2 separate regions of the Homo sapiens genome follow, and region 1 is linked to region 2. The links come from fine-mapping of genetic effects on gene expression. A gene starts in region 2. The other region holds a variant in brackets. All regions are shown on one strand. Distances are from middle to middle.

Evidence for each region. PIP is the estimated chance that this variant, and not a neighbour inherited with it, causes the effect.
Region 1: its variant is the best candidate, but not a certain one, in a credible set for the expression of ORAI3 in whole blood (TOPMed, PIP 0.70).

Annotation. Positions count from the first base shown.
Region 1 is chr16:30,989,918-30,992,818 of GRCh38, forward strand. It overlaps STX1B (syntaxin 1B), which reads right to left. Exons shown (of 10, transcript NM_052874.5): 10 at 1-2,901. Among named protein-coding and RNA genes, the nearest start is that of HSD3B7, 6.2 kb to the left of the region's middle. RefSeq lists enhancers at 123-766, 767-1,410. The variant A/G (reference allele first, on the strand shown) is at 1,426.
Region 2 is chr16:30,947,682-30,950,582 of GRCh38, forward strand. ORAI3 (ORAI calcium release-activated calcium modulator 3) reads left to right here and starts at 1,387. Exons shown (of 2, transcript NM_152288.3): 1 at 1,387-1,836. The coding sequence starts at 1,609. It overlaps FBXL19 (F-box and leucine rich repeat protein 19), which reads left to right. Exons shown (of 11, transcript NM_001382779.1): 11 at 1-1,102. RefSeq lists silencers at 813-1,062, 1,433-1,692, 1,733-1,782 and enhancers at 1,706-2,224, 2,513-2,742, 2,743-2,901.

The DNA.
Region 1 (2,901 bases), 42 kb after region 2:
TTGCAGGCGCCTGGGCAGGTAGCACACATTTGTCCAAGAACATGCAAAAGACACCAGCCTCCAGACAACATGCCAGGACGCACACAGACAGCAGCCAACAAGCAGGCACATCATAGGATGTGGAGGACGCATAGAAAGGGCACAGCAGACCCTTAGAGATCCCCTGGTCCACCTGAGGCCCAGAGATGGGCAGCTGTGGGCCCAATGCCACTCCAGGTGGGGGGAGTGGTGCCCCAGCCACGCTTCAACCCTTCTCCTGTGGCCCCAAGGCCGTGGGACTTCCGGAAACACCTGGGCTGAATGGGGGTCCTGTCCAGGCGGCCGGAAGAGGGGACTGGGGGCTGGGGCCTGCTCTGATGTCTCCCAAGCAGCCCGAGATGGGAGCAGGAGGGCCGTGGCCAGACTTGGGGCAGACTTCCTGTCCTGCAGAGGGGCGTTCTGGGAAGGGACAGGCAGGCCCCCAGCTCAGGACAGCCCACCTGGGGTTACGCACGTGGCCACACTGACACACACACAGGACAAGGGAGAGCTCGGCTGTCTGAGCTCGGGTAGAGGTGGAGGGGTACTGTGTTCTGGGAGGTCACATCTGTTTGGCCACATGCACACACAATGCACACACAATGTACACACACATACAATGCACACACACGTACGCTTCACATGACCTGGGACCCTGGGGTCCGCACACACACACCGAGTGCCTTGCCTGTGCACACATAAGCCCCATGCCAGGGCATGGCACATTTGTGTACTTGTGTGTTCACCTTTCATGATCCTAGACCACGGAGTGGGGACCTCTAACACTGTCCTTTCTCCCACGCACCACCTACCTGCCACCAAACCCACAAATTGTGCCTGTGCTGGCTACACAACAGGGGAGGTGCTAGCCCCTTCCTCACACCAGAAATCCAGGCCTGTGTACCCCTCAGTCACACCCTGGTGTGGGGAGCAGCCTGAGGGTTCAGCAGGAGAGGTGTCGGGGATGGGTCTCAGGACCCAGCCCACCCTGAGTGGCCACTGCCACACTGGCCACTCCAGTACTTCTGAAATAGACATTTCCCCAAACCCGAGTTCCCTGAGGCAGAGCCCAGAGCATCCGATGGGGCAGTGGGGGACACACAGTCCTCTCCCAGGTCTGAGGTGGGTGTGTGAGGAAGGGGTCGTGTCCTGATCTTTGATCCCTGCAGGGAAGTCCTTGGCATCTTGCCTCATCAGTAACATTCCTACAAGTAGCCCTTTCCTTCCAGGAGGCATTCGTGTGATCCCCGCACCCATGCCAGCGTGCATGGTTTGTGCCTGGTATGGCCCCTGCCTGGGGCCACCTCGGCCTTGCCACGTGTGAGCACACTGAGGGGTACCAGCTTCCAGGGGCTCGGGGCTATGCTGGGCAGAGACATGGAGGAAGATGAGGATCTAGGTGTGAGC[A/G]TGCAGAGCCCTGAGGCTGGGCAGGCAGGGAGCTCTGCCTGCACAATGATGTAGCCGTGTGTGGCCACACCAGCACTGGGCAGCACCTCTGGGGAGGGGGGCAGGGCAAGGACAACTGGAGAGACAAAGCCAGATGGGGCCACGTCCTTAGAAGTGTGTGTGCACGCACGTGTGTGTGTGTGTGTGTAATACGCAGGGCAGAAACACACCATGTAGGTCAGGCAGGACAGAAACACATCATGTAGGCCAGGCGTGGTGGCTCAGGCCTGTAATGCCAGCACTTAGGGAGGCCAAAGTGGGCGGATCACCTGAGGTCAGGAGTTCGAGACCAGCCTGGCCAACATGTCAAAACCTCATCTCTACTAAAATTCTAAAATTAGCCAGGCGTGGTGGCAGGCGCCTGTAGTCCCAGCTACTTGGGAGGCTGAGGCATGAGAATCGCTTGCGTCAGGGAGGCACAGGTTGCAGTGAGCTGAGATTGCGCCACTGCACTCCAGCCTGGGTGACAGAGCAAGACTCCGTCTCGAAAAAAACAAAAAACAAAAAACAAAAAAAAATTAAAAAGCACACCATGTAGAGAGCCCCTAACACACACACACACGTGCATACACACGCACGCCACACACACACAGCTGCATTCTAGGTAGCAAGAAATACACATTTCTGTGCCCTCCCAAAACAGGTGTCCAGTCCACAGTGTGGAGGGCTCTATCTGAGAAGACCTATCAATACTTCAGGCACATCCTGGACACACACACACACACACACACACACATGCACACCCTCCTGGGACATGCCACAGCCCCTGGGGTAACAAAGACATGGGGTGTCTGCCATGGCCTGTGTGTACCTGGGCCTCCCTGGATCCTCTGAGAATGTGAGTGTGAGTCCACACACACCACCTGCCTGGTTTGTAGCAGACACAAAGGGCTCAGGTATCAGTGGCTTTGTTGCTGTTGCATTAGGTTCAAACACTGAAACACAAAATTCCACGTACACAAATGGTGTGTCCACAGATCTGTGGTCTCACGCACGCACACACACTGTTCACAGAGGACAGAGAGGGCGTGATGGACTGCTGTGTTACACTTGGCTGCAGTCTACACAACAGCCCCGGTGAAGGGGGAAGCTCAGACCACGCACACACACCCAAGGTGGGGGTGGAGGGGGTGCTCTGGTGCATCACACACATCACACGCACACGCACGCTGGGGTGTCCACACGTCTCGAGCATGTGCCGGCGGCATGCATGTTGGTGTGCATGTGTAATCACGCCTGCTGCGATCTACGTGCGGGGACGGGGGGGGGGTCCATGGCCCGGTGAGGTCCAGGGACACCAGGGTCTGCCGTGGGGGTGGGGCTGCCTGGGTCTGTTTTGGGAGTGAGCCTGGAGCAGGGGATGGAGTGAAAGGGGTGGTGGGGGTATTGCTCCCGATGTGGTGGGGGAAGGGTCTGGGAGAGAGAAGGGTGGGGGGG
Region 2 (2,901 bases):
GGGGGTGGGGCCACAAAAGGAAAACCGGAGGAGCAATTGGGGATCCAGGTGTCAGAGGTAGGGGAACCAGGGGCAAGCTGGGGCTGAGCTGGAGGTGGGGATGAGAGCAGGTGTGGGGACAGCAATACCCCCTTGGGGGTCACCTCTCTGCTTCCCCCCTCCCCAGGCTTCAGTTCCTTCCCCCTGACCCTGACTCCTTGAACGTCACTGAAAACGGCAGCTATTGCAAGGAGTGGGGGCCGCGGGCAGCCGCTCTTCAGCTCGCGGCCCAGGGGAGTGGCGAGGGGCGCCCCAACCCCCTGCCCGCCTCTCCGCACAATACTTGAACATTCATCTGTACTGAAGTGTTACTTGAACCGGGGGAATCTCGGACCTGGGGGAGCCGGGGTGTGAGGGGACTGGACCAGCTTGGACTGAGACCTGAGACCGGGCCGGTGGGCGCCCATTTGGGACTGCGCCACCCCCAGGCTTGTTCTTGTTTTACTGTATTGAGCGGCGGCACCCGCCGGACCCGCATTATGGCTGGGGGCGCCAGCCCAAGAATGGGGACCATGGGACTCCTCCAGCCTGGCTCTTCCCACTCTTTCATCGTCATGGAAACTTGTATCCCATTTGCCCAGGGAACTGCCACTCCTGGTTGCCATGGAAATAGCAGCCAACGGACACCTCCCGATGCCAGTGCTAAGGCTGGAAATGGCCCCCTCTTAGTTGCCATGGGAACCTAGTAACAGACTCTGCTGGCCCTCCTTCCCTGCCCCTTCCTCGAGCGCGGGGTGGGGCTTCGGGACCCCGGGGATGAGCCGGGCCAGGTCCCGCCCCTCCGCGCAGGCCTCCGGGGGGCCGGGGCTTACCATGTAGGGGAGGGGAGATCTATCCACATACCTCAGGTAACAGGGAGGTGCGCGGGTGGGGGGAGGGCTGGGCGGACCAAAGGCCGGAGGGGTGGGGCCTGGGGATAGCGAGAGGCTTGAGAATGGGGCCGCTTGGGGGAGGGAAGAGGCAGCCCGGCGAGGGGCAAGCGGGGGACCCAGCCGGGCTGGGCCCCTGGGCCCCGGGTCTGTACAATACGGTTTGCTATAAAACTCAAAATCTTCCAGCCGGGGCTGCGGAGTTCGTGTGTGTATCTGCGGGGTCCCTACCTACAGATGAGTGGGCTCACCTCTCCTGGACTCATTTTGGGAGGGATTTGGAAGTGTGGACACCTGGGGTGTCCAGCTGTACCTTGGAGGGGGCTGGGGTTGGCGTGCACCTCGGTGGGGTCCGGGCGCTTGGATAACGTTCTTGGTGGGTAGGGGTCGCGGGGAATCTCTGCGGGCCCGGGACTGCGGGGACTTGGTCCCCGGCTCCACCCCATCATGTGGCTAGCCCCGGCTCCGCCTCTGTCCCAGTTCCTGTTTTGGCCTCCGCTGTCCCGCTCCGGCTCCTGGGGCTCCCCGCAGACGCTGCTTTTCTTGCTCCACTGGGGGTGCCTCTTCCTGGGCGCCCGCCGCCTGCATCCTGCTCGTCCTGTCTGGGAATGGGGCCGCCCCCGGGCTTGGGCCGGCCCGGCTGGGGCCCCCGAGGCGCTTCCGCCCCGTAGTGACCGCCTGGTGCCGCCCCCCCCCCAGGATGAAGGGCGGCGAGGGGGACGCGGGCGAGCAGGCCCCGCTGAACCCTGAGGGCGAGAGCCCTGCAGGCTCGGCCACGTACCGGGAGTTCGTGCACCGCGGCTACCTGGACCTCATGGGGGCCAGTCAGCACTCGCTGCGGGCGCTCAGCTGGCGCCGCCTCTACCTCAGCCGGGCCAAGCTCAAAGCTTCCAGCCGCACGTCTGCCTTGCTCTCGGGCTTCGCCATGGTGAGGGGCCGGGAGGGGTCACACCCGGTGGGGCAGAGCAAGTGGGGGGCACAGGTCGGGGGGGGGGCGAAGTAAACAGGTCCCAAGGGAGACAGGTTAAAGGGGGCTTTCGTCAAAGGGGGAAGGAACAAGGTCCCGCGGGACTGAGCAAGTCCCTTCTTACGGATGTGTGTGTACAGGGGACCCCAGGAGACGGGGCCACCGGAGGACACGAAAGTCCTAAAGGTGTCGTAGTGGGAGTGGGGTGAACAAATCGCTGGTGGGGTTGACTGCAACAGTGAGGCAGAGTGGTCCAGATGGAGCCTGTACCTGGCAGAAGTGGTTCCTAAGTCCCAGTGCCAGCTTCAAAGGCAGGTCAGCTGGGTGGGGGCTGCATCAACAGGTGGGGGGCTCGAGATGGATTAGCTGGGTGGAAGGGTCACCCAGCTGAAGGTGGGCCCGTCCCAGGGAAGGTGGCCACTCTCCAGCGGGCCCAAGGGGTGCTAGTGTCAACCAGGAAAACTGACAAGAGATCATGCCCGGGAGGGAACCGCTGGGGAAGGAGGCTGATGAGGAAACTGATAAGCGAGTCTCAAGCTGATAAACCCCAGGTGCAGGAGGACGGTGTTGGCTAACGGTCTGCCCCAGCAGTGGCCTCACAGGAAGTGGGATGGAGGGAGGTCCCAGGGTGAGGATCAGCAGACACAGTCCTGGCTCCTCCCTGCTTGTGGCCAGCTGTGTGACCCTGGACAGGCCTCCACCCCGCTTGCAAGCCAGTGGGAAACTGAGATCATGGAGGGTGCGCCCTCTGTAGCCAGCCAAGTAACCGCCCCAGGGTGAGCCAGGCATGTCAGAGCAGGTCACGTACCAAGGATGGCTCAGACTAGCCTGCTAATTGGACAGGTGTGGAAAGTAAAAGCCTTGCCTCTGGGCAGGAGCGAATGAACTGGGACCCAGGGTTGCTGCTCTGTTAGTCTGGGGTTGCCCCACCATCACCCCAGGAAAAAGGAGAAAGTGAGCTGCAGGAGGTACTTTGGGGAACGCACTCCTGTGGGGGTGGATATCAGAGGCGGTTGGGGTGGGGAC